Homo sapiens: one gene and its partners. The protein of the gene in region 1 interacts with the protein of each later gene in a biochemical or structural test. Each region holds a gene or a part of one and is shown on either strand. Other genes may lie near its edges. The genes, in order: JUP, DSG2, EPAS1 and TCF7L2.

Evidence for each region.
Region 2: the proteins of JUP (region 1) and DSG2 form a complex in vitro, tested with the Homo sapiens proteins (one study listed by BioGRID).
Region 3: the proteins of JUP (region 1) and EPAS1 form a complex in vitro, tested with the Homo sapiens proteins (one study listed by BioGRID).
Region 4: the proteins of JUP (region 1) and TCF7L2 form a complex in vitro, tested with the Homo sapiens proteins (one study listed by BioGRID).

Annotation. Positions count from the first base shown.
Region 1 is NC_000017.11:41,769,710-41,776,735, reverse strand, and holds part of JUP (junction plakoglobin), read left to right. Parts: intron 1-3,809; exon of another isoform or gene 3,810-4,146; coding exon of another isoform or gene 4,147-4,189; intron 4,190-4,479; exon of another isoform or gene 4,480-4,543; intron 4,544-4,873; coding exon of another isoform or gene 4,874-4,881; coding exon 4,882-5,089; intron 5,090-7,026. UniProt on the Homo sapiens protein: Common junctional plaque protein. The membrane-associated plaques are architectural elements in an important strategic position to influence the arrangement and function of both the cytoskeleton and the cells within the tissue.
Region 2 is NC_000018.10:31,515,159-31,522,184, reverse strand, and holds part of DSG2 (desmoglein-2 preproprotein), read right to left. Parts: intron 3,947-7,026; coding exon 3,911-3,946; intron 2,383-3,910; coding exon 2,248-2,382; intron 1,383-2,247; coding exon 1,221-1,382; intron 1,087-1,220; coding exon 942-1,086; intron 103-941; coding exon 1-102.
Region 3 is NC_000002.12:46,356,401-46,363,426, reverse strand, and holds part of EPAS1 (endothelial PAS domain-containing protein 1), read right to left. Parts: intron 6,704-7,026; coding exon 6,619-6,703; intron 2,790-6,618; coding exon 2,671-2,789; intron 2,543-2,670; coding exon 2,337-2,542; intron 1-2,336.
Region 4 is NC_000010.11:113,142,231-113,149,256, forward strand, and holds part of TCF7L2 (transcription factor 7-like 2), read left to right. Parts: intron 1-1,692; coding exon 1,693-1,795; intron 1,796-3,780; coding exon 3,781-3,867; intron 3,868-7,026. UniProt on the Homo sapiens protein: Participates in the Wnt signaling pathway and modulates MYC expression by binding to its promoter in a sequence-specific manner. Acts as a repressor in the absence of CTNNB1, and as activator in its presence.

The DNA of each region.
Region 1 (7,026 bases):
CGCGCCTGGCCCCCTCACCTTTTTGTTTTGAGACACGGTCTCGCTCTGTTGCCTAGGCTGGAGTGGCATGATCCTGGCTCACTGCAGCCTCAATCACCTGGGCTCAAGTGATGCTTCAGCTTCCAGAGTAGCTGGGACTGCAGGTGCATGCCACCATGCCCGGCTAATTTCTTTTTATTTTTTGTAGAGACAGGGTCTTACTATGTTGCCCAGGCTGGTTTCGAACTCCTGGGCTCAAACGACCCTCCCACCTCCGCCTTCCAAAATGCTGGGATTATAGGCACGAGCCACTGCGCCAGCTGGCTTCCGCCTCCTCTGCCATCTCTTTGTTCTTCTAGCATGAGAATGCATGCCTTTCCTGTGGACAGAGGGCTTCCAGAGTCACAGTGACAAAAGAAGTCACTTGATCATCTCCATTTTACAGATGAGAAAATGAGGCTTAAGGAAATTGAGCCCCTCTCCTCACTCAGAATCCTGTGCTCACCCTGTCGCTGTCTGAGCCTGGGGACCTGTGTCTGCACAGGGTGCTGGCCTCTAGCCTAAGGAACCTCTGGGGGACCCAGCCCTGCCCTGCTCCGCCCTGCTCCTCTGTTCCCAAATGCAATGCTTCTGAGTCTGCTTCCAGCACGGCCTCTGGGGTAACCCACTCCTGTCCTTATTTCCAGGTGTCTTGGCACTTGGTGCCCTGCAACCCAGCCTAGATGTGCCCATTGCTGACTGTCCTTGGCAGGTGCCGGCTGGGGAAGGAGCCTGGTGTAGCTCTGGTGGGGCTATTTTTAATGTCAGGGCTGGGCCACACTCTGCCAGGTCAGTCTTGGATTTAGGGTGCCCGGTGCCAGCCCTCTGGGTTGGCTGCGCAGAGGAGGAGGCAGGAAAGAAGGGTAGGGGTGCACCCAGTCTAGCCTTATTACTTGCTCACACTTACCTGGTGTGGGTCCCATGGGGAAGGGTCCTCTGCACCCCCTCTCCAGGGCCCGTCTTCCTTCTTCCTGTCCTTGGGCTGTCCCTACAGTCTCTGATCTGGCTTCTTCCTCCCGTGCTGCTAACAATAGAGCACGCTCTAAACAAAGGCCCCCCATTCAACTCAGAAACCCGCCCTGTCTCTGTCCCTGCCCGTCTCTGGCTGGGATGAGTGGGCAGGGCCTGCGTCTGTCTCTCTCGCTTCCACCCTGGCTCTGTCCAGGGGCATTGCAGGAGGTCTGACTCCAGGTCCAGGGTGGAGAGGGACAAGACTGAACTGGGTGTGGCCCCCTCCACCCTGGGAACTGTAAAACCAGCACTTTTGTTTCTTGTGAGAGAAGTTCCTTTGTTCTCCTGGGCAGTAGGTAAGGAGAAGGGTGGGGCTGGTTGACAGTCCTGCCTGAGGTCTGACTTCCAGCCTTCCTGTTGCAGGAATAGCTCCCGTGACCCCTTCCTCAGGAGGAGTTCTGGAGTGTGTCCTCTCTCTGAACTGGTTCCCAACTCTGACGTTGCCCACCCCCAGCCTTCTTCTGTCTGTTGTGGGAATCCTGTTTTTTTATTTCTAGAATCTTAGACATCAACATTCCTTTGAGATCCAGGGACACAAGGACACCCAGCAAGTTTGTGGCAGAGCTGGGACTAGAACCTGGGACTCTTTTTTTTTTTTTTTGAGACAGGGTCTTGCTCTGTTGTCAGCCAGGCTGAAGTGCAGTGGCGCAGTCTCGGCTCACTGCAACATGCACCTCCCTGGTTTAAGCAATTCTCCCGCCCCAGCCTCCCGAGTAGCTGGGATTACAGGTGCACACCACCATGCCTGGCTAATTTTTGTACTTTTTTAGTAGAGACAGGATTTCACCATGTTGACCAGGATGGTCTTGAACTCCTGACCTCGTGATCTGCCCGCCTTGGCCTCCCAAAGTGCTGGGATTACAGGTGTGAGCCACCGCACCCGAACCTGGGACACTTGATTTGCAGCCGAGTGCTCTGCTTCCATCTGCAAGCACCTTGGTCCCCTCCTCCCCTTGGCAAGAGGGCTCAGCTCCACCCAGGCTTGTCTAGTGGACTGGATGCTGTTCCTACCACAAGTGCTGCCATTTTCTCAGTGTGCAGGCACAGCTTCTTCACCTAGAAATTGGGAATAAAGCCAGGCACAGTGGCCCAAGCCTATAATCCCAGCACTTTGGGAGGCTGAGGTGGGCGGATCACCTGAGGTCAGGAGTTCAAGACCAGCCTGGCCAACATGGGGAAACCCGGTCTTTACTAAAAATACAAAAATTAGCCAGGCGTGGTGGTGCACACCTGTAGTCCCAGCTACTTCAGAGGTTGAGGCAGGAGAATCACTGGAACCCAGGAGGTGGAGGTTGCAGTGAGCCAAGATCATGCCACTGCACTCCAACTTGGGCGACAGAGAGAGATTCTGTCTCAAAAAAAAGAAAGAAAGAAAGAAATTGGAAATTATAAAACATCTGCCAGGGTTGCTTTGAGGGAAGAATGAGATTCACATAATAATAAAGGCCACTGGGCGTCCACCCCCCCACCCCCCCATGGCATCCTGTGGCTTCTGTCTCTCCCTGGGTAGCTGTCTAGCCCTCAGCAGTCTCCTGGCGGTTGACCTGGGCTGGTGGGGGTGGTGAGGGGCCTGCTGAGGAAGTTCCTCAGCTTGACTGTGGTGGTCCCTTTAGATGTGAGGCCGGCAAGGGGTGACCCTTGTTTGGAGTGAGGCCCGCTTCCCTCTCCCTTAGCTGAGAAGCCCCAGGGTTAGGCACTGTCTATGCAGGAGGGCCCTCTGGCTGGGATGCAGTGTGTTTGTTGACCAGAGCTGCAGATGTCCAGCAGTGTCCAGATGTCGTTCAGCCTTGAGCCCAGCAGAGCGGCATTCAGTGGGTTATTGCTACCGTGTTTACTTGTACACTTGCACCTTCCTTCTCTCCTGGGGGCAGCTTCTCTTCCAAACTCTCCTCTGCTCTCTCTTGGGACTTGCCCTTGGGGCAGGGAAATGGTTGGGGAAGGCGGCACAGCACGAGGAGCTCAGGATTTTAGTAGGGTTTTCCCATGTCTGCCTTCTCCGAGCACCCCGCCCCCCGCCCCCCACCATTGCCCCTGTTTCCTGCCAGTGGCCATTCCCCTCTGTTGCTGGGGAAGGGGTGTGGGGAAGGGGTGCGTGTGGAAAGGGGGCTGGTTGGGGGGGCTCCTTCTGAAATAGCTACACTTTCGAATGCCTGGGAAGCAGCTGTGCACATCTGGCGGCCCGAGCCTGTCGTCTGGGGTCTGCCGTCTGAGGTGGCGGGACTGCTTCTGTTTAATCAGCCTGAAACTCTGAGTCACTAGGGATTGCGGGAGGAGAGGAAGGAGGCAGCTGGGAGCTGGCCTGGCCCCTGCCTCTGCCTGTTCCGGGTGTGCTCACGGCTGCCTGCCATAAAAGGCTGGGAGACCTGCAGGACCATTCGTCATCCTCCTGGAGGGCCAGGGCGGCACTGGGGCAGTCACAGGGAAGACTTATCCTTGGTGATCTTTGTTCCTGGGGTGGGGCCAGGTTGCCCCAGCCACCCCACCCTCACCTGGTCCCCATCACAGTGAGACAACCCGGGTGCTGCCTGGCTTCATGGGTGGACCAGCCTGAGTTCTGCTTACTCACTGAGGCTGCGCCGGGATGTGCAAAGACTACAGACCTTGGTGCCCTCACACCTGGTCCCAGTCCCAGCTCTGCCATTTCTAACCTCAGTTTCTGCATCTGTACGCGGGGGACCAGTGCATGGGCTTTGAAACCCGCCCATGAGCATGACGGTGTCTGTGAAAGGTCTGGCTCGTAGTAGGCCCTCATGGGATCACGGCGTCCATTCTCCCCGCAGCCTCTGACCTCTGCAGGTCAGTTCCCAGGACAGTGGAGCCAAACACAGACCAAGCGGGAAGTTCACCTCCCTGGTACAAAGTTCGGCCCTGCTACTCATTAACCTTCAGGTGCGCCTAAACCTTTGCAGAGAGAGAGAGGGGTTCCTGACGGCAGTGACCACCCACAGGCCTGCCCCACCCCAGATCCCTAGCCTGGGCTCGAGGAGACCAGGAGGTGAGGAAGCACTTCTGGAGGAGAGGCAGTGCTGATGATAATGGCCGTGGCCTCTGAGCACCTGCTATGCACCAGGTCCTCGCAACCACCTCTGAGGGAGGTGGCGTGACCCCGCTTTACAGATGAGGACACTGAGGTTCTGTGGGGAGAGGAACTGCCCCAGTAGTGAGTAGCTGAGATTTGAATTGCTCTGTGGGACTCAAAGAGGCGTCTAGGGACTGGGAGGGCTGGGAGAGAGGGGGCCTTAGGGTCTGGACCTCAGGGCCATGTGTGATCCTGCCCAACCTGTAGGAAAGCCAGATCCTGGAGTCTCTGAGGGAGCCTGGGGCGCTCCAGAGAAACCTGTCAGACCGCTTCCCTGCCCCGCCCAGTTTCCTGCCCAATGGCTTGGGTGCCTCCTCCCTGCAGCCTTTCCCAGGGAGCCCCAGTAGTTGAGGGTGGGCCCAGGGGACCTCAGAAGCTGCTAGAAGCCCTGAGTGCCTTCTCTTGCCCCTGGGAGAGTTGGGTCAGGGCAGCAAGGTGCGTGAGCAGGGGCTTCTGGCGGCAGCTGGCCCTTGACTGTCCTGCCCCCTGGGGCTCATCCCCCTGGGAGGTCAGAGATGCAAGCCCAGGACATACACACAGCCGCACCCCTGGGGCTCACTGCTCCCAGGGTATCTCGTCGTGGGCAGCCCCTCCCTGGGCCTGGTGCCCTTCTGGGCAGTCCCCCCATCCCCAGCCTGCATCCTCATTGAAATCCCTGGGCCATGGTGATGATGTGGGAAGACAGGCGGGGCTTGGTGACGGGCTGAAGCTGGGGGCTGGGCCAGGTGACTTCCTGCTTCCTGACTTCCTCCTTTGTGCCCCCAGTAGCCACGATGGAGGTGATGAACCTGATGGAGCAGCCTATCAAGGTGACTGAGTGGCAGCAGACATACACCTACGACTCGGGTATCCACTCGGGCGCCAACACCTGCGTGCCCTCCGTCAGCAGCAAGGGCATCATGGAGGAGGATGAGGCCTGCGGGCGCCAGTACACGCTCAAGAAAACCACCACTTACACCCAGGGGGTGCCCCCCAGCCAAGGTCAGGACCCCTGGGGACTATTGCATGGGGCAGAAAACCTGCCTGGGTCCTGGAGAGAGGTCAGAGTGAAAGGAGGCAGATTGTAGGGGGTCTCTGGTCTGAGGGAGGAGGCACAGCTCATGCTAACTAGGGGCCCACCCAGTCTGAAGGAGGAGGTGCAGCTACTTCAGGGTGCTGCATCTGGGAGGGTCACAGAATCCTCTTCTGTGAACCATCAGTAGGGAGGGAAGGCATAGTCCCTGCCCTTAGGGTGCCTCCAGTCTGAAGGAAAAGCCATAGTCCTTGCCTTCTGTGAACATAAGAATCTGATGAAGACATTGGGTACGGTGGCTCATGCCTGTAATCCCAGCACTTTGGGAGGCTGAGGTGGGCAGATCACCTGAGGTCAGGAGTTTGAGACCAGCCTGGCCAACATGATGAAACCCCGTCTCTACTAAAAATACAAAAATTAGCCGGGTGTGGTGGCGCATGCACCTGTAGTCCCAGCTACTTGGGAGGCTGAGGCAGGAGAATTGCTTGAACCCAGGAGGCAGAGGTTGGAGTGAGCTGAGATTGCGCCACTGCACTCCAGCCTGGGCGACAGAGTGAGACTCCGTCTCAAAAAATAGTAAAAAAAAGAGTCTGATGAGGATGTATCACTATGGCTCTCAGGGAGCCCATGGATGGCAGGGAGGACGCAGCCCTTTGGCTGCAGGAGCCTCACGTTTGTGGGAGAGCCAGGGCCGTAGCCCCCAGGAACCCCCAGGGATTCCCCTTTGGGTAGAGGGGTGTAGGTGTCAAGCCTGAGGGCCCCTCGTTGGGGTTGGAGGGAGACCAGGCCTCTGCGGCTGACCTGCAGATAGGCCAAGGCTGTGGGATGAGTGACTGACTCAGCTCTGGGGCTTAGTCCGGGATGGGGATGCCCCGCCAGCCCAAGCCTCCCCTGCCCCTCTGGGAGAGAGGAATAGCCAGGCCCTAGAACTGTTGGCCACAGGTGCCTCCAGGGCCCTGAACATGCCAGGGGGTGGGCTGTGGGTGCTGGGAGTAGTGTGAGTAGACTGTGGCTGGTGGGGCTCTATGGAGCTCAGCCCTCGCATGCCAGTCTCCTCCCTGACAGCTGGTAGGGGTAGCAGGGGGCCTTTTGGCTGGCAGGGCCAGGCACTGTGTTGGTAGCAAAAAGTACAGCATCCAGGTGGGAAAGCCATGCAGCTGTCTCCTCCTTCTCGACTAATTAGAGGGTGGAACCTCTGCGTCCCTCTCCCTGGGGGCATCAGGACAGTTGCCAGGGTGTGGCTGCTTGGGCACCTACCTGTGGGACTCCCAGACCCACCCAGGGGATGGAAGCTAGAGAGGAACCTGACGTCTCAGCTGAGGACCCAGCTCCTGCTCTCTGAACCCACAGCCCTGACTTTCCCTCTGATCTGCTGTGAGATGTGATGTTGGTGGTTCTCTGGGCCTCTGTTTGCCTGCCTGTATAGTGGGAGGATTGCTACCGTTGGGGATGATGAGGGTGTAATTAGACTCCTGAGATTTCAGGGTTGAAAACAGACCTGATGGGTAAGGGAGGAGAATAGAGTAGGGGTTTGGGCCCCTGAGTCAGGCTGCCTTATAACCCCTCTGTGCCCAGTTTTCCCATCTGTAAAGTGGAGCCAGTGATAGTACTTACCTTGCAGGGTCGTTGTCAGGTTATGTGAGAAAATATAAGCAGGGCATTGAATTCACTGCCAGGCACATAATAAGTGTGCAAAAAAAAAAAAAAATTCCCTTGATGGACAGAACATGTGGGGCCTATTTTACAGAGATTACTGAGGTGATGGTGACTTCCCCAAGGTTCCTGGTGAGAGGTAGAATGGCCAGTCATGTGCTGGGGGTTTGGGCAGGGCAAGAGGTAGCCCAGAGGACCCAGGTGGGGCTGTCTGTGGCCTGCCCTGCTCCCCAGTGTCTGCCCAGCCCACTGC
Region 2 (7,026 bases), on another chromosome or scaffold:
GAGGATAAGCAGGCTCCAGAGATACGATTCTATAGGAAATTTTCGAATTCAGGGTATTGGGCTCATCTGCATCTGTTGCATTGATTTTCATCACAAGAGTATCTGGCATTAGAAATAAAGATGTCTAAGATGAAATTCAACTTTAAGCATATTTACCTGTTATTTTATTTATAATTTTAGCTTGTTCCAAAAAAGATTTCAGGTGCTTATCAAAATCACATACAGTTGACCACAATATAACATTTAACTGGATGAGGACATAAGCGTGAATGGGATATAACAATAGTAAAAACAAGATGAAGGCAAGGCTGAGGGTAGAGTCCTGAAAAATTGCTGTATAAGGGCACAGATTTGTTTATAATAGTATTAGTAGCCAATACAAAGAAAGTAACATGAGCAGGTACATGATCCTGATATCTATTAAGATACAAACAAATCAGGAGAAGCGTAACTATTCCTTACATCATGGTCAAAAAGAAATCTCTCATTCGGGTCCTCATGAAGAGCACTGTGTTGAACAATGTTGTGAATAAATATTACAGTAAAAATAATACAACTTACAGGTCAGCAAACTATAGCCAAAGCTGTAGGGCCAAAGCTAACCAGCCACCTGTTTTTGTAAATGAAGTTTTATTGGACCACAGCTAGGCTCATTTGTTTACATATTGTCTATGGTGCTTTCCTGCAGATAGCAGAGTTGAGTAGTTGCTACAGAGACCTTATCCATCACATTAATCTACCCTATCTGTTCTGAGGGTAAAAGCAATGGCATGTAAAGTCCTTTAAACCTATAAGGAAAGCAGTTCTGAACTGCTTTCTTATCATTTGTTCTGTAGGTAATACTCAACTTTCATTAAGATATGAAATTTAGTGTTTATTTACAGTGGGGATAAAGTAATCTTAGGTATTTATTTATTAAAAAAAAAAAAAAAGACTCTTACGTGCTGCACTCAACTCTTCAACAGACCCAACAAAGACATCCTGTGTGAACACTGGTTCGTTGTCATTGATATCAAGAACCTTAATGCGTAGCTCTAAGGGTTTCTCTACATTGTTTCCTCTTGCATCCAAAGCGTAACCTGTTAGCTGAAATCATGACATAAATAAGATTAGATTTAAGCTAAGAAAACTAAATTACCATACTATGAAAAAATAAAACAAATGACACTTATTATGACAGAAAAACTACAAACTAATAAATCTAAAATTATTCTTCTTACCAGAAAAAATGGTGTTTCTTCTCGATCAAGAATGCTGGTAACATTCAGTTCTCCAGTATCTTTGTTAAAGACAAATATACCAAAAGGTGGCTCTGTAATCCCTTTTCCAGTGTATTTGTAAGTAATTTTGAGTCCTCTTTCTTCTGCAAGATCAGAATGTATCTAACATAAAAATAACAGGAATGTTTCAGGTTGAACTCTCTGTAATTTACTAGATTTGATCTTAGCCAAAAGCCTAAGAAGTGATTCTCTATAATTTACAGGTAAATATTTTTATGGACAATTTCCTTCTGAAGTTCTTTGGTAATACAGGCCAGAGATGACATGACTTGGACTAGGGGAATGGCAGTGGAGTTGAAGAGAAGCAGCAGATTTGGAATATATTTTTGGAATAGAACTGATAGTGTGTGGTACATTTTTGGCTTGAAAAACTGGAGAGAATTATAGCATCAATTACCAAAATGGGTAGAACTTATGAAGAAAAGCTTTGGGGGGAAAAAAATGAAGGGTTTATGTTTGTGCATGCCAACTTTGAAATATAGAGTAGCAACACTATCACATAATTTATCAAAAAAATTGGACCCCTTGAGAGTGAAAACACAGATATTAATTATTAAGCCAGGAGAGCAGGCATAAACCACGACTGTCTCAGGCAGATGAAGATGGTCCCCCTACCTAGTAATAGACACCAGTTCATCTTGAAAATGACATTTTATGACATCCTCTTTTGAGCACTGAACATTTTGTGTTACCAGTGCCAAATCCCTTTACTCTTAGTTAAATCAAAACTCAAAGTTATCTATATTTTTGCCAATGATGCTGCATCTTCCGGAATGGGAAAGAGAATCTTAAAGTTGATACTTTATGCTAAAAAGTAAGCTCTGCTAATTTTCAGATATATCTTGAATATTTAAAAATTCTGTAAGCACATCATACATTTTCCTTAAATCTTAAAGTAGACATAAAAGTCCTCTCACACCACATTTTAGTCATATGCATGTATTTCATGTTCCTCTTTAGGAGGTACCTTGGCAATTGGATTCTTCTTGGACAGATCCTCTCCCTCCCGAAGAGCCACGGGGGCGGTGATCCAGGCGCGCTTTTGCCGCACTAAATGAGGATGTTTAGGAAGCAGCTTATTTTCATTTCTTGTGCTTAAGACCTATAACAATAGAATATTGCCAAAATTTATTATGTGTCATAAATATAGAACATTAGTATGCTGTCCTATAACATAATAAACTTTTAAATAGTGCAAATTTTAAGGTATGCTTCGTATTTCCTATGAGGCTTCATTGTCTAAAAGGGAATATATATATTCTAGCAAACTGCATAGGGCCTCAAGAGATTGTCTCCAAGCTAGTAAAAGTGTAGGGTTTTTTCTGGTTTATTTTTTCTTTTGAGACAGGGTCTTGCTTTGTCACCCAGGCTGGAGTGCAGTGGCATGATCTTGGCTCACTGTAGCCTTGACTTCCCCGGATCAAGCCATCTTCCTGCCTCAGCCTCCTAAGAAGCTGGGATTACAGGCATGCACCACCACATCTGGCTAATTTTTGTATTTTTAGTAGCTATGGGGTTTCACCATGTTGCCTAAGCTGGCCTTGAACTCCTAGACTCAAGCCTCAAGCAATCCGCCCGCCTCAGTCTCCCAAAGTGCTGGGATTACAAGTGTGAGCCACTGTGCCCAGACAGTAGAATTTTGTTTTTAACTGTAAGAAATGATTTCCCAGAGTGAGAGTTTGAAAAGTTTAAAGAATCATTTAGTAGCCTTACAAATTGGCAAAGTAAAAAATAACAGATCATGTCAAAAACGTTTTTTCTTATTAACTGAAAATGAAGTTTCATTTTTCTGTGGTGGTTTGTGGTTTAAAAATAAATTACTAAATGTTTTTTAAGGCTAAATCTTAGTAATCTATTGATATAAACTTGACTAAAACCAGGGAAACTGCCAGTTAATGAATTTATTGTTTTCAGGATTGGGTAAAGAATTAAATTTCCCATTTCATTTTCAGAACCTTAGGCAGAAAACCATTCTATAAATTTCCAGTTGGGTTTTACAGGTGAATATATATTTTATCCAAGGGAAATTTCAATACAGCTGACCTGGGATCTTAAGATCAGAAATAATCCTTATACTAGGTTTGGTTTATCATTTTACTCATTTTGTTGCTCTATGTAATAGGTATTTTACTTCAAAATATGTACTCTGGTTATCACTAGGTCATTGATTTTTTTTTTTACTTGAACAAAATTTTCTATGACAAAAAATTGAAATTACTTTTTCATTTATACCTCACAAAGTATTCATTAACAGCTTGATTAATATCTTTTATGATTTTTCATAACTATACAGTTGCACATATATACACAGATGCATAAAGGTCTTTTTGCTATAAAAATGGACTTACACTATATATCTTATTTTGCCCCGATTTTCATTCAGCACCTCGTCATGGACATTCTTTCATGTACCATAAATGGTTTTAACATTCACCTATTGGTGGATATTTACATTGTCAAAAACTGCTGCACTGAATACCCCTGGATAAGCTCCTCTGCACTTGTTTGAATGGGAATGGCTGGGTCTAATACAACATGTGTCTTCAATCTAGTAAAGCCCAGTCAACCTGTTTGCCATGGAATTAACCCTCCTGAGTCAGAAGGCAGAAATAATCCCTTTGTTTCCTCACCTGTAAGTGAAGTCCACTTCCAACGTTAAAGCAGATCTGTAAAATAAAATTATTTGATATTTAGCCAATTTACTGCTCAATTCAGTGTGAAAACATTGTTCATGAATAACCTACTGCATTGAATATTATAGACATAAAAAAAGTTTAACCACTACTACTATTCTTTGTCAAGAGGAAACTAATTTTTCCCATTGCCTTCCCTAATGGGAAGTGCCCGAGGAGAAATCTATATTCTCCTGGATCCATACTGACTCCTCCAGAAAACAGTATCTTAAAAAACAAACAAAATAATCTGCCTTGTGAAATCTTAGACATTCTCTCATCCTTTACTCCGCATCCTATGGTTTTTATCTTGTGTTCTCCAGGACCTGCTTACTTTTCCTCGAGGCCACCAGTATGTAATGTACCCCACACCCAGCTAACTCCCACCATCCCTATGGATGTGTGTGCATTATACACACACAAAAAAACACACACCACACACACACGGACAGCCCATGTTCTGACTTCTCGGTTCCTCAGCATCCTCAGTCCCACCAACTCTTTTCTTTGGTTCTTCATAGGCACTGTCACACTTGGGACTTCATCATGACCTAGTACTGTTCTAAATACAGTTATGCTTACTCTTAAATTTGCCCAAAAAACTCCCATCTTGCTTTCTGAATATTTTGCACTGTAAAATAATAATTTTAAAAATTGATGCATTAAAGATGTGCATAGTTTTGGAATACATGTGATAATTTAATACATTCATATAATTTGTAAAGATAATTAGTATACTTGGGATGTCAATTACCTTAAATACTTGTCTTTTCATTATGCTAGAAACATTTAAATAATTCTCTTCTAGCTGCTTTGATATGTATAATAGGTTATTGTAAACTATAGTCACCCTGCTGATCTATCGAACTAGTGTACTTATTTCTAACTAGTGGTCTTATTTCTTCTATCAAACCATATATTTGTACCCATTAATCAATTCTTTTCTTCCCCCACCTCCCCACTACCTTTCCCAGTTTCTGGATTCTATCATTCTATTCTCGATGCCCATGAGATCAAAACTTTTAGCTCCCACATATAAGTGAGAAGATGTTGTATTTGTATTTCTGTGCCTGGCTTATTCAGTTAACATAATGACCTCCACTTCCAGCCATGTTGTTTTGCTGCAAATGGCAGGATTTCCTTATAGTTCATTAATCTCCCTGCTGGCTTCCTTCTTCTCTTGGCTCAATCTGAACCAGCACTTTCTAATATGGTAGCTACTTGTGGCTATTTGGATTTTAACCGCAATTATTTGAAATGAATAATCCAGTTGCTCCACAGCCACATGTGCTAAGGGCTACCCATTTGGACAGGGCAGACAGAAAACATTTCCACCGCTGCACACAGTTCTACCGGAGCAGCTAGCAGACTGCTGCCTGCCACTCTGAAGATGTTGTCAGTGACCACCAGGGAGGCTTCATTTTCATGACTGCTATTCCTGCCTCACTTTTCCTCTCAACTCTAGAAACCTATTATTCTCTTTAGTTCTGACCATGTACTGGCAATATCGCTAGAGGAGGCCACAGTGGCTGAATAGATCCCTTACACATTCATGCTCTCAAATAGCTGCTCTTTCCATGGGGTGGCGGTTCCTTTCTAGTGTGACCATATGTCTGCATTTGCTCAGAAGAGTCTAGGTTGACACCTGCTGTGAGGCATTCCATCTGTTAACAACCCTTTCATCCTCAAAAGTGTGCTCACACTATAAATTATATCGTCACTTTGTCATTGCCTTACCCTTATTGCATTTCTAAAATAGGCATTCCAAACTTTAGGAGATGACTCTAGTCACACCTCTGTACCTATTCACTCTTATGAGATGACCCCATGTATTATTTGACTGAGACTATCTTCAGTCATCCTCTCCTTCCCTTCTTTCCCCACAGAAGAGGTGTCCTGACTCCTTTCCAAGGCAAACCATCGTTTGTGTGCTTTATTTGCAACTCTATTTGTTCTCCCACATTTATCTTCAAGAACCTTAATCCTTCCACTAACCTTTTATCTTCCTTCTCCATTGGCTAATCAATACATTTATTTCCTTCTGATTGGCAAACCAAATATATTTAGGTTTTCCTTATCTTAAAAAAAAAACCAGATCCCTCTCTTGTTTCTGTTAACAATCTATTGCTCTATATCCCTCTCTTACTTATAATTCCAAATTGAAATTATTGTCTATATGTATTGCTCCCACTACTCCACCTTCCATTTATGCATTAATTCACTGGACTCTGTCTTTGGTGTAGCTTTTCTCAGTTGTTTGCCTTTTCCCATCTGCATGGTCACATGGATCCACAAAGCCCTAGTTGGTACATCATGGGAAACAAGGCATTCCCTAAAATTTCAAAGTCTCTTTCACATCCTTTGCATTCATTTGAAAGCTTCCTGTAGGGTCCATTCCACAAGTGAATCTTTCAGCCTCTTTCTTTCCTTTCCATTGTCAGTTCATGTTCTTGGCTCTCCATTCCAAAGAGAAACTCAAGGAGAGCAGATGTTCAGCTTCTAGTGTGGGCTTCTCTGGGGCAGATGAACAATCATGGCTAATTCTCTATTTTATGATCAGATCTATGATCTCTTCTTCATTCTGTCTACTATTAACTTGCCCAGCTAGCAATGGCCAGAGATGTCTCTAACCAAAGTGGTGCTCCCCAAATTTATGTATTTTCAAAGGTGGCATGGTATGAAAAGCAAGGGAAAGCAATGCTGAGATAGATCACTTCTCTCTGCATGTTCCTTGGGTGGGAATTTTTGAAGAGAAAGATCAGTGCCTGGATCAGAGAGGTCCCAGTGTCCACATCATCAGGGAACAGCCTTAAAATTTAGTATATTTAGGCCGGGTACAGTGGCTCACACCTGTAATCCCAGCACTTAGGGAGGCCGAGGCAGGCGGATCATGAGGTCTGATGATCGAGACCATCCTGGCTAACACGGTAAAACCCTGTCTCTACTAAAAATACAAAAAAATATTAGCTGCCCGTGGTGGTGGGTGCCTGTAGTCCCAGCTACTCGAGAGGCTGAGGCAGGAGAATGGCGTGAACCCGGGAGGCAGAGTTTGCAGTCGGCCGAGATCGCGCCAC
Region 3 (7,026 bases), on another chromosome or scaffold:
TCTTAAGCTTAAAAAAAATCTCTTTTCTATTATGTAGGGATGCCAAGTTATTTTCTAGGACAGTAGGGTTTTCCCAGTGCTTATGGAGTTATGTTACGGATGTGCTTCATTCACCAGGGTGAAGCACGTATCTGACTTTCATCATCCCCAGCACTATATATGCTCCCAGGCTATATGGCTACGTCGGCTTGAGCCACTTCACCTCAAAGCCAGTGACACAGGGGCTATGCAGTGGGATTGTCCATGTTATCTCACAAGACTACTGAGGTACACAAAGCTGTGTCTTCTGCCCAGAATGTTCACCTGAATACAAAGACTGCATCTGATAAATAACCTTACCTATAACATGGATTCCTGCAGTGCCTGTCACTAAAAGTGCAATCTTCTTCTTGAACCACCATCATTATCACCACCACCACCACCACCACCACCACCACCACCACCACCACTACCACCACCACCACCACCACCACTAACAATTACAATAAATGGTGACTGTGTCGAAGTTCCAGGACGGAAGGCTTCATGCATGACATTTTCTCCCTATGAGGTTAGAGCATTTCTTTCTACTTATATAACTACCCACTAGCTCCAAAGGCTGTGAATCCTGGCCCTACTGTGGTCAGAACTGAAGGACAGGAATGACTCAAGGATACTTTTACAAAAGTTCTGAAATTGTGCCACAAGTGGTGGCCAACTCTAAGAAGGGGCGACCAACCAACACCAGGCCGGTCTGGAATCAGAGGAGAGAAACCCCATCCTGGAGAGGAGGGTCCCTCCCATGAAGAAACCAGATGCCCTTGGGATGTCCAGCTGATAAGAGAAAAGTGGGTAGGCCTAGGGGAGGCTGAGCAGGAGCTTTTTTTCCTGGGGTTCCATGGTTTCCTGCTAGCTGAGGAAGACAAGGCAGATTCTTGCTGATCTGGGGGTCAGATTCTTCCTCTTCCTGCCCCCCAGCCACTAACTGCCTTCAGAAGTGGTTTCAGCTCCTTGAGTTTAGTGGAAGATTTTGCTTTGGAGGAGGCCAAGGACAGGAAGTAAGATATAAGCAATAACAAGAAGCCTCACATGTGTTGTGGTGTCTGGACTTCTCAAAGTGCTTGCACAGCCATTATCTCATTTTACAGTGACCCCATGAAACAGGTTAGAAAGTGTTATCTCTATTTTGGAGAAGGGGAAACTGAGATCTGAGGGTTTCCTGAGGAGAAACCCTAGAAGATGAGAGAAGAGTGGCAAAGAGTTGGGGGTGGCAAAGAGCTGCCACAGGAACTGTCACCCTGGGACACATGGCGGCTCTAGATGCTGCAGAAAGCTGAGGTCAGGCAGGGAGATCTCTGCCAGGAAGGGCGCATGCGGGGGGTGCTGCTCAGCAAGCCCCAGTGGCGCTTACTCAAGCCAGGCCTACCCTGGGCCCAGTCTTCTGCATTTCCTTCCCTCCCTGGGGCCGGCCATTGCTCCGGGCATCTGTTCTCCCCATCTTCCTCCTCCTACCTCCCATCATCAGGCTCCACAGTCCCAGAGGCAGGGCTGGTGGGGGAGTTAGGAGCTGTAGGGTATCTAAATACTCCCTCCTATGACAACCCCAGTCTCTTCCCCACCTGCTTCAATCTTCTAAATGAGCTAAGAACCCGAGATGGCATGACATGCCTAAGCAGTCTTAGGCACTCTTTCAACAACTCTAATAAAGGTGATAATAAGAGCTAACACTGAACATTTATTACTAAATTTGAACCTAAGCCATCTAGTCCTGAAGCCCATGCTCTTAATCACTACTGTGTCTCCTAAGAGACACTGGGCCTGGCACTGGGGGGTTAGCATCTGGCTCAGCTACCTTCATCTTCTTCAAAATGGCTGGACACTGGCCGGAATGGAGTTGCATGCAGGAAGGAACAAGGCGGAGGGAAAGGCTCAGTCAGTAATGGAAGAGGGTCAGTCTCCAGGGCAGAAGCTGATGCTCCTTACTGGCCTCTGAAGCAGGAGTACAGATGGAAGTCTCTAGACTCTTTCTCCTGGGGCAGAAGACTGCCTTGAGAATTTCCTCAGGAGCCTGATACACGTATGGAGAAATATGTTCACACCACAATGATGAGAAGAGTTGCACACCAGGAAAGCTCTGCAGATGGACCCTGAGGCTCTGTCAATGGGAGACCACCAAATACAGTACCGGGAACCTCTGAGGGGCACTGATGCAATGAAACAGTGGCACAGGTCCACGAACATGCACCCGGCAATACCACGTCTATGTTCAGTTCCACACCTTTAATACAGGCACAACTCCCCACACACACAGGTAAGACCCATCTCTGCCCACAGCATACACACCCATGGCCCCCTACCTGTCATCACAGTAGGTGAACTTCATGTCCATGCTGTGGCGGCTCAGGAAGGTCTTGCTATCCAGGGGGATGTCCATGTGGGATGGGTGCTGGATTGGTTCACACATGATGATGAGGCAGGACAGCAGGGGCTCCTTGTAGCCACACAGACTATTGTGAGGAGGGCAGTTGTTGTAGACTTTCACCTGGCCCGTGCAGTGCAAGACCTGAGACAGGCGTGGAAGGGTCAGACATGGAGCCGAGAGTGCTGGGGGTGGGGGTAGGGCCTTAGGCATCCCCTGCACCGCCGTTACCCTACACCTGGGACTCCAACCCAGGCCTGATGTTGCCCTACCTTCCAGGTGGCTGACTTGAGGTTGACAGTACGGCCTCTGTTGGTGACCGTGCACTTCATCCTCATGAAGAAGTCCCGCTCTGTGGACATGTCTTTGCTTTTTTTCCCAAAACCAGAGCCTGGATGTGGAAGGATGGGAAGAACCAGCTGAAGTCAGTTTTATATGGATATTCATGAGAGGGGCCCAGCTGCAGTTTTTCTTGGCAGCCTATTGTTTATATTTTCCAAATATCTGCTCTCTTAGCACCTGTGGTCTGCCATCAACACTGAGCTCCATCATGGCCTGTGAACTAATGGTTCCCACTCTCAAGCTTATCTCCTCAACTGGAGCATAAACTCCCACAAGGGAGGAGCTGCTCCATCATTTGATTTCCCATTGCATCTGGAACATGGTCAGTGGTGCCTTCAGAGCAGCGACACAACGACTGCCTATCAGCCACTAACTCAGCCACCCTTTCCTGGGGCAGGCCCAGGTCTTCTCGCAGAAATTCCAAGGGACAGTCTGAGTGAGGCCACAGTTACTCCAAGGGTGTAAGCCTTCCTCACAGGTTAGAAATGTCTCTCCGACACTCCCGTCTTTCCTTTATAACCTGTCTCTCAGGAGGAATTTAACCCCTCCTGTACCCCATTTGCAAACTGCAATAGCTGTGTTCAGGATACCATGCCATTAGCTTTGTCCCTGAAGTGACATATGTATCAAGGCTCTAGAGAGAACTCTGGTACGAATCTCCTTACAGTGGACTTGGTGAGCAAGTCCACTTTATGGATTAACTCAACCTGGATCATATCCTCTCTCTCAGCAAAAATTAAATCACCAAGACCAGCAATATAGCTTACTTCCTTATAGTTGCCAAACAGCCTCCCGATTCAGAACCATTTTCCACTTTTTGTAAAACAAAGTAATGAAGAGTGCCAGCTGAATCCCACTTGTCTGTGTCTAAATCCTGCCTACACCACCATCTCTGGTACCTACTTTCAAAGATATAATCCTGCCCCCTACCCAGCATCATAGAACAATCTAGAGCCTTGTTTCGAATAGTCACACTCCTTCCTCCAGGAACAGTCACCAGCCCCTGCACTTAAACTTCCAGAGGATCTTGACTGACATATTCCTGAAGAGTTATGTGTCAAAGGAACTGTGGCACCCTTGAACAAAACTTCAACATCCTTAGGGGACCCCACTCAGTAACAGACTGAATAGTGAATTTTTTTAAAAAAGAGAGAACATTCCTTCATCACGATTATAAAACCATTTCTCCCATACCAAATTATGATTCTTGCCATTTTAATTTTCAGAGGTGGGGTTAGCATACAATGAGATATACCTGTATCTTGGGATCTGGCCCCACCACCAGGACCAGACCAGTTGTTGGGTATAAGGGGGCTGGAGGGATTCATTTGTGGCTGTTGCTGGGGTATTATTGAGGCCTCTTAACTTGCTAACCTCTGGATTCTCCCCATGCTGACATTTGATCTTTTTTTTTTTTTTTTTTTTTTTTGAGACAGAATCTTGCTCTGTCGCCAGGCTGGAGTGCAGTGGCGTGATCTTGGCTCACTGCAACCTCTGCCTCCTGGGTTCAAGTGATTCTCCTGCCTCAGCCTCCCAAGTAGCTGGGACTACAGGCACGCGCCACCACGCCCAGCTAATTTTTGTATTTTTGGTAGAGATGGGGTTTCACCATGTTGGCCAGGATGGTCTCGATCTCTTGATCTCGTGATCCACCCACCTTGGCCTCCGAAAGTCCTGGGATTACAGGCGTGAGCCACCGTGCCTGGCCTTGTTCATTCTTTCTAAACACTGCTCCACACAGATCACTCCACCCCTGCACAGAAACCTTCAATAGCTCCCCATTGTCTATGGAATAAAGTTCAAGGCCCTCCACCTGGCCTTCAAAGCCTTCCACAATCTGCCTCATGGCTTTCTTTTCCTCTAGGAACTCACACTAACCCTTTAGGTCTAGATCACGAGTCCACCCATAGGCTGGCACCTTCAGTGAAGATTTGCTGTTGCATTGAGTTTGACTGATCCCAAGTCCTCAATATGCAGATCAAGAGATCTAAAGTTCTACTCAGATAATTAGAGGTCACTTGGCTGTGAATCATGGCACTTGAGAACTGAAAGGTTGTCGCCTTTGCCTAGTCCAATACCATCAATTTGAAAAGAAAGACTCTGAGGAACAGAGAAGTAGGGTACTTGCTTCTGGTCACAGACTCAAACTCAGACTATGGTCAGTGGCTGAACTGACACTAAGAACCCAAAGGCCAAAGGGTTTCTGGAGTACAGAAGAAATCAGTCTTTGGTTTTCTCAGGCTTTCTCAGGCTTCAAGCACCTACCCATGCAGAACATGAATCCTCTTTTTAGAGAGCTTTAGAAAGTCTGGTAGCCCTTTCCCCACAGAACCAGACAAGACACTGAGCAGCCTACAGGGTGCTCTCTGCCAGTGTACCCTAGGACCCAGGTGGTCTAAGGCCTGCAGAAGAGAGAGCAGAGGAGCTGGGTGAGGGAGCTGTGGCAGTGGTAGAAGAGGAGGTGGTTGTGATTCTGTACTTTGCAGGCCCAAATGTGGACTGCAGACTCAGTCTGTAATAGGGTGGAGGTGAGCCAATGAAGTGTCTGTTTTTGCAGCGTGTGTGGTAATAAGAGCCAAACCTTGTAGGCTTAGCCTCACTGCCTCTGTTATTCAGGCTGGACAAGCACAAGCCCCATGGCAGTGACAGGTGAGGTTGTTAAAGAGGACATCTAGACATGCACAGAATCTCCCCAGACCAGTGACAGAATCTCAGGTTTGGAAGGGACCTTGACAGTCATTAAGCCCCAATTCTGACCAAAGCTTCAGTCCTCTTAACAATGTCCCTATTCATGCCTTTGTTGAATGGCCACAGTTACAAGACAGGAAGCTCCACTGCCATTGCAACCATTGCAACGTGCTTTCTGCCTGTGTGGGTCCTCTCATCTACTGGCACCTGCTGGGTATCCCCATGGGTAAGGTCCTGAATGCTACATCTTTTTAAACCTCTTCTCCATCAAAACCTACTTGACCTGCGTCTCATCAGGGTACCATTTCCTGTGGTAGCTCTTCTCCAAAAGTAGCTCCAACAAGCCATGCCTTTTGACACTCATGGCTTCGTGTAGTTTCCTCCCACAATGAGCCAGGGCTGGCCTGTAACATGCTCTAACCAACAAGATGGGGCAGAAGTGATGCTCTGCCAATCTGGGGACAAAGCCTTCAGAAGGCCTGGCAGCTTCCACTTTAGTGCTTCTGGGAGCCCTAAACTGCCACGTAAGATGTCTGGCTACCCTAGAGACACCATATGGAGAGGGAGAGTCTCTGAGTCTCCATAGAGTGAGAGAACAGTCCTGTTGTCCCAGCATGCCAACTGAGTCCAGGGTTCCAGCCACCTGCCACAAGGTCCCAGACGTGTGTGAGCTATCCTGATCACCCCAGCCTAGTCTGGCCCCCAGATGACTGCAGCCCAGCTGACATCACATGGAGTACAAGACCCACCCACTGAACCCACAGAACCCTGGGAGATAATCATCAAAGCCCTATGTTATAGGTGGTTTGTTAGACAGCAATAGATAACTACAGTAGTTACTATGAGCACTTTGGCACAGACTAGTTCCTCATTGGTTTGGGTGGTGTCATTTGGCAGAGATGCTTGACTCTTGGGTGATGAAACCTCCTAGAGACAGTGTCCTAACCCAAAGGTGTCCCCTAGTAGTGGGACACCAGGCACCATGCAGGGCCAGCAGGAGATATTTCTGAGTACTGGATCCTCTCAATGCCCCAATCTCATCTCACAGGCTACATACTTAAATTTTTTAAGGACATCCATTTTTCCTGCATCACAAGGGCCATGAGCTATCTCCCTTATACCCGTAGACAAAGGGGAGGCAGATTCCCACCCAGTGGGGGCAAGAAGGAAGTAAACACAATTAAGGATACCATTTTTGAGACTCAGGTTCTCACGAATCTCCTCATGGTCGCAGGGATGAGTGAAGTCAAAGATACTATGTCCTGTTAGCTCCACCTGTTTCAAAAACAAGGTTAGGCATCATTATTCCTAACAGTGAAGTAAAAGACTCCAAGAGTAAGCTGAGCCACCTTCCAGATTTGGAGGCAGGGAGGAGACTGAATTGGGTTTTCTCATAATCCCAGTCCAGTGTCAGGTCCACAGACAGAAAGATGTAATCGGGGACTACTGATGATGACAGAGACTTGGTCTGTTAATGAGTCAGTAGAGAGCTGTCTACCAGGATGGACATGAGCAAAGCCAAACCCAATGCTTGGGGGTGGGAGCGTGGCCTGAGGCGTGTGGCCTGAGGTCAGCGAGGGTCACCGTGGGCATTTGCA
Region 4 (7,026 bases), on another chromosome or scaffold:
CTGACCACCTCGGCCTCCCAAAGTGCTGGGATTACAGGCATGAGCCACCACACCCAGCCCAGCATCCCCTTTTTATCCCAGTTGTTCATTGACTGCTTTTTTCCCAAAGGGGAGAGGGAGGGAAGGTGGGGTTACTTGTAGCTCTCCTCCAACAAGATCTAAATCAGGCAGGCAGCCCCAGCAGCCTGGTGGGGTGGTCTTGGGAGAACAGGTAAGGTTAGTGTGTGTCTTTCAGGCTACCCAGTGTGTTGGTAGGATTTCCCCTTCCTAGCTCAGTAATTGGAAGGATGGGTTTAAAGTGGTGATTGCACATCACTTTGTTAGAGGGGATTGGTAGTGTTGGGGTAGGTAGGCTGCCTGGTTAGGCGGCCTTCACTGCCCCTGAACGAAGCCACACATGAGCTGGGTTTTACTGGTCTCTGAGCCCCTTTGTGCTGGTGCAGGACTGAGCCTGGCGCTTGGATGCCTGGTGGCCTCCTCCAGCCGGCCCCAGGCTCCACCAGTGAATGGCAGCGTCAACGTCTCATTTAAATAATGGTAGTACAGGGAATAGCTTTTAAATGGTTATCGTAAAACATATGATTAACGTCTGTGGACTGTTTACTTTTCCTCTGCGAACATTCTTTCAAGTGTGCAAATGGCTCGATGTAGGGTCCAAGCCCAGCTAATCTGTTTGGTTTTTGTAATAGAGAGAAAGCAATGTCTGCATGAAAATGTCACCCAGGGAGACTTAATTTACAGATTAAAAGCTTCCTGAATGAATTTTTTAAAAAATGAAGTCGTTTTCGTCCACGAACATGCAGCCCGTTCCCTCCATTACTCTGTTTTAATTCTGTGGTATTGTGCCTTTTGCCTCCCACTTCAATGGCATACATCAATTCCTCTCTGTCAGAGTGGACTACAGGATGTGCTCCTGTGGAACTGGCAGATGTGCGGTGGCACGTACTTGCAGAATCCGCTCATGTGTGCCTTGTGAAGCTCTTAGCCCCTGCGACGCACGCGGTGCCCATTCAGCAGGTGGGCTTAATCCCCACAGACGACTCTGTCCTCTAGCGGATGAAGTTCCAGAATGGAGTACACAAGCCTCCAACACCTCCTTGTCTGTTCAGCTCTGACTCTGCCTTAGATAAGATGCCAGATGGCATTTGATCAGTTTCTCCAGCTCATCCAAATAGAGGCAGAGACATTTTAGAGGAGTCACCATTTTTGAAAAAAGGCAAGGGTAGTAACTTTTCAAATGCCACAGCTCAAAAAGTGTGTTAGAAATCAGAGGAGTAGCTCTTGTGCAGGTAAGGCATGAAACTCCGCAGGGTGAAGGGCCAGAGTTGTAAGAGCAACAGGGATTACCATTGCTTCATTCTCCACCAGGTGCTGAGCCTTTTTGATGTTGTTTCTTTTAAACTTGAAACAATCACACCAGTCACATGAGGCACAAATACCCAAGATGGCATATCTTGAGTCTACTCAGTATACCAGTCCATTTAGAAGGAGATAAACTAATTTTTCAAACTGAGGCTGAGGGAAAATGAGATGAAACCTACCAACAACTCAGGATTTATAATCATGAATGAACCTTGTGCTAGGATTCCAGAAGAGATGCGTCTCTTCCTCCTTTCCCTGTTCCCATCCCCTAATGGATTGCTCTTTCCTTCTCTCCCTCCTTTGTACCTAAAATGCTGCTTCTTCCCTCAGGAATCCCACGGCCTCCGCACCCTCCAGATATATCCCCGTATTACCCACTATCGCCTGGCACCGTAGGACAAATCCCCCATCCGCTAGGATGGTTAGTACCACAGTAAGGAGTTCCATTTTTTAATTTCCTTTTTGTTTCTTACATGGGCATGTTTATTATTTATTCTGTGTGTGTGTCTGTGTGTGTGTGTGTGTGTGTGTGTGTGTGTGTGTGTATGTGTGTGTGTTAGAAGCCAGGGTTGGGGAGGGGGCTGCGGGAGGGCACAGAAAAGGTGTTGCTGAGGTGTCCTGTGGGAATACAGGCAAATCCACAGCCATTCAGGTGGCTTATGTTACTGGCACTTAGCATTCCGCGACCATGGTCCCCAGAGGCTCTGTGGACAGAGGTGCCCTGCAGTTCCTTTGGGAATTGCAGAAGACTACTGGAACTTCCACCCAATGAAGCTGGTCATGACCCTTCTGCTGTTGGCTGCCCAAACTGCAGTCATGTCATTGGGTTGAGGCTGTCGAGTCCTCCATTTTAGGTGTTACATATTTTGGGGCACAGAAGCAGGAACAAGAACGGCCTTGTTTTGAAATCCAGGGTTGGGATTAGGGCATGTTCTTGTATGATTCCAGGACCCCCCACCTCATCCTGAACATTACTCCCAAGGTTGACAACAACAGTGGAAAGTTTTGTCTGTTGAGAAGCTCCATGGGACTGAATCAGCATCTCTCTGAGAGTCTTTGCACGTTGAATGTTTTACCTAACTGTGAACGGTGGGAATGGGGCATTTGGAACCGTCACTGCAGCATGTGGGGCCTTCGTAAGCATCAATCCTAGCTCCTGGCAGTGCCCAGATTATTTGACTAACTTTTGCAACTTAAAAAAACTGTGTTTTAAATTCAGAGTAGAAAGGCCTTTGATGCATTAGCATACTGTGGCAGGTTGTGTGTATGTATATTTTTGCATGAGCATGTGTGTAATATGTGTTTCGTGATTGTTTCTGTGGATGTATTTCTCCTTACCAGTGATCTGTACTCTGAACAACACAGGACAATACATTGAATGCTAAAAGGAATAAATCCTGGTAAAACTCAGGTTTGAGTCTTAGGGAAGATGGCCTTTCAAAGCCTTAAGGAAGATAAAATTTTGGAGTGGCTTACCCCACAATTCTACCCGTATTTCTCTAGTTAGATAGATTCTATGCTGTTTTTTTTTTTTTTAATAAAAAACAGATTGCATTATGTAGTAGCTGTACCAAATACCAACCCTGGGTATAGTTTCTGTTTCTCTGTCTCTTCTTATTTTTATTGGGACGGTAGACATGAACATGAGCTTGTGACCCATTTCTTCTAAATAGATGGGGCCAACCCTCGAATAGTTCTCAGTGATCATTTGCCCCATTCGGCTGATGGGGAGATATTTGAAGGCTAGATAAAAAGGAATAGCCAACTCAGACAACCCTCTGTCAGAAAAAGTTGTGTGTCTTTCATGAGGATGCTATTTTGCATGTTGCTGTATTTTTTAATTATTGTAATGAGGTGTGATTGTCTATTGGTTACCCACAATTCTTCTTGGGGACTCTCCCCCCGGTAACTCTTGTCAACACTTGTTAATTTGACAAAAGGCTACAAATTAAGCTCTGTTAATTTAATGTTTTCTCACCGAGATCTAAATACCGAAAGAGGCCCAAAGCGCAACTGAAGTCCTTTGATTCACTGTACTTTATTTTGGTATAAATTTACATTCATTATTGTTTTCCTTTGGATGTGTAGCCCTCAATTAGTGTGATGGCTCCATTAAAGCAAGCGAGACTTCGCCTTTAATTATTACAACAAAACACCTAGTTTCAGCTTGGGGAGAGGGTCTCTATTGACATAAGCAGAGGTTATAAAATTTAATTAGCCATTCCTATCAGATTTATGGCATTCAAATTGTTCTGTGTTTCTTCCCTTTGATCCTTCCTGTACAATCCCCAAGATTTTTGTTCTGATCAAATGAGAATAAAGCTTACTGTGCAGAGAGAACTTTTCCCTTTTCTTCTTTTTCTTGTCCCCACCCCCACCCTTGTTTCAAGTCTCTTACTTTGTACCCCTTCTTTGTAGGCAAGGTCAACCAGTGTACCCAATCACGACAGGAGGATTCAGACACCCCTACCCCACAGCTCTGACCGTCAATGCTTCCATGTCCAGGTGAGTTCCAAGAACCGGGGCCTTCATCCAAGGCCATGTGTGACTTCTCAAGAAGTTCTCTAGATGGCCACCAAGCCACCCAGGGACCACAGCTACATGTAGTTCTATTAGTGTAAAGCCAATGTGGCATTAGGCTGTACTCCCAGAAAATCCTGAAAAATTGCCCTGAAATTCCAAGGTAAATGATGTCTTTCTGGGTAAAATTTTTGAGTCACTCAGTTGAACAATGTATTTTAATGAATTAAGAAGGTAAGGGAGAAACAGGACAGAAGCTTTTAAAAATGCCATTTCTCTGTTGTCCTGTCCTCAGCAAGAAAGGTAGCGGTGAAGGTAGTTTTATTATTATACCAAGAAGAGTTCGAAAAAAGATTACTGGTGTTCTCAAAGCTCAGACTCTGATTGCAAGTCAACAAGAAAGCATCCGCCTCCTCCCCTCGAAGGTAGCACTGTCCAATAGAAATATAGTGTGAGCCACAGAGGGAATTTTAAATTTCGTAGTAGCCGTGTTTTTAAAAAAGTTTTTGTTTTTTTTTTTTTAAAAAAAAGATAAAGTTATTTTTAATGACATGTTTTTATTCAATGCAATATAGCCAAAATATTATCATTTTAACATGCTATTCCTGGACAACAACTATTAATAAGATGTTATGTTCTTTTTTGTGCTGAGCTTTGGTACAAAATCTGATGTGTATCTTATACGCACAGCACTTCTCAGTTTAGACTGGCCACATTTCAAATATTCAATAGCCACACGTGGCTGGTGCATATCATAGTGGTCTGTGCAGCTCTAAGTCTTTGAAAGTTAAAAAAAAACATGTGTGTGTGTGCTGTACATTCATATATATTTATATTTCAGCGTAGAAACATATTTACAAGATACATTCCTATCCCCATGTTCTTCTTTTCCTCCCTCTGATTAATTCTGGCTAATTTTTCAGTGACTGCTAGTTTATTTACAAACTGGTTGGCAGCAGTATGTTTTAGTCGCTAATTGTTTCTAATGATAGTTTTATTTTCTGTTCATCTGATTTTCAGTCAAGTTAATTAAATCGGTGGAGGTTTAGACTTTGCTGATGGTCTGAAATCACCAACCCATTCTGATGATGGCACATAATGAAATTAGCATGCGTTACATGGCAGGGGTGCTGTCCCCAGCTTCTTTCCCCAGTCCCTGTGGCCAACATGGGAAGCCAAGACCAGAGAAGGGCCTGGAAAGACAGGTCAAGATGCTGCTTTTCCTACTTACAAAACAGTAACTTTAGCAGTGATAGAGAGTTACATTCATTAAGAAAAACAAACCGTGGCATATCTAGCATCGGTAACTATGCCGTGGATATCATAGTTGAAGAGATCCATTTTCTACCTGCGATATATCATCAAAATTTCAAAATCCATGCCAGTATTAGTTAGGTAGGAAAACGCTCGTGTGTTCTCTGGCCTAGAGAGAAGAGGAGGCGTAACACTTATTAAATAGTGTCATCACAGCCTCGCAAAGCATGGGAATGAGTAGGGGGTCTCCCAGGTGGAGAGCACCCAGGGACCACGGCTACATGTCATTCTATTAGTGTAGCAGCTTATACTCCACAGCTCATCTTCCCACCTTCCCAGCATTTGTATATTACACCTGGTTATTTTTCATGTTTGTTTATTTGGTGCGTTCTGGAGGTTAACAGTGGTAAAGTAATTGTAGGATAGGGATTGGGGTTAAGCTGATCGATTGAATTATCATTAGGAGGTTAGTCGATGAATTATAGGTGGGCATGGGGGTGGAGGAAAGGCAGGGAACGTCAGGAAGAAAGGTTAGGGCCTCAAGGTGCGGGGAGAGGCGGCCGACTCCCCAGGTAGGCCAAATGAAAGATAGCTAGTTAAAAAGCATATACAGCAAATTAAATACATTATTGTGATAATGGGGCGACAGAAGTATAGGTCTATTATACTTATGGCAGTTATAGCAAATGTAGGCAGCTTGCCCTGTTCCAGAACACCCTTTGATATTCATTCTATTCAGCAGTGGGGCCAGGACTTCTCAGAATTAAGTGATGGGTCATTATACTTTAAACACCATGGAGAAGCCTAGATTGGCAATTAAACAGCTCTTGCTGACACTCACTTGTGCCACCCTGTGACCCCCTTTAGATTGAGATGTTGGAGCTCCGGGCCCTCAGCCTGCTAAATTGGTGCAAGGCTCTTCTCCTGACGAGAGCCGGCTCTGAAATCTGCCGGCTTCAAAGGGAGCGAGATCATGTATAAACCATAATGTGGGTGCACCGTGGCTCACAAAAAATAAGGCAGGAAGAGATGAAATGTTACAAGTGCAAGGGGGAAAATGAGAGAATAATGACAAACCTAATGCAACTCAAAGCAGGATTGTTGCACAGGAAAATGCATCCTACTGCTTGTGCATAAAATCAAGGCCGGCAGATGACATCCGGTTAACAGAAACGTGTCAACAGTGAAGTAAAGTGAGAGTGAGTAAGAGAGAAGCCCCTGAGACAGCCAGAAACAAAAATTAGTTGTTCTTAACAAGTTAAGGTTCATCATTATATTCTGGCTTGGAGCCATGAAAGCAGACGGGGGTATATAATGAGCTGCTTAGAATTTTTAGGGTGTTTATTGCATTTCATGAAATAGTAGTCTGCAGAAAGGAATTTCTTAAGCGAAGGTATGTGTATACAGCCCACATCCATGTTCACACATGGTCTCTTTCTTTGCTGAACATTTTTCAGATATGGGAATATACGCGTAGGTATGGGAACTTAGAAATGTGCCTTCTTCATGGCTGCATTAGAAGTTTGTCTGCACCCCAAAATGTACTCAGATTGTGGTGCCTTCCCGTGGTATTTGGTGTATGTACACACACGTACACACACACACTCACACATGCAGTGTTTTTCTCTCTCCCCCTCCCTCTCCCTCTCACGTCTGTACACATATTCTCATTCTGCAGGAAGGGAACATATGTATTTGAGGAATGTCAGGCCTTCAAAATTCACAGTAAAAGCTGCCACCCACCACTTCACCCAAGGGCTTCCAAGAACACATGTTCTTAACTTCTGTTTCCTCTGAGGCCTTCGAGCAGTGGGAAGGAACAGGGTGTCACTTGGAGCCCAAGTGTCTCCCAAGGGGTTTTGCTTTTTTTGTTTTTCACATTATTTTGAG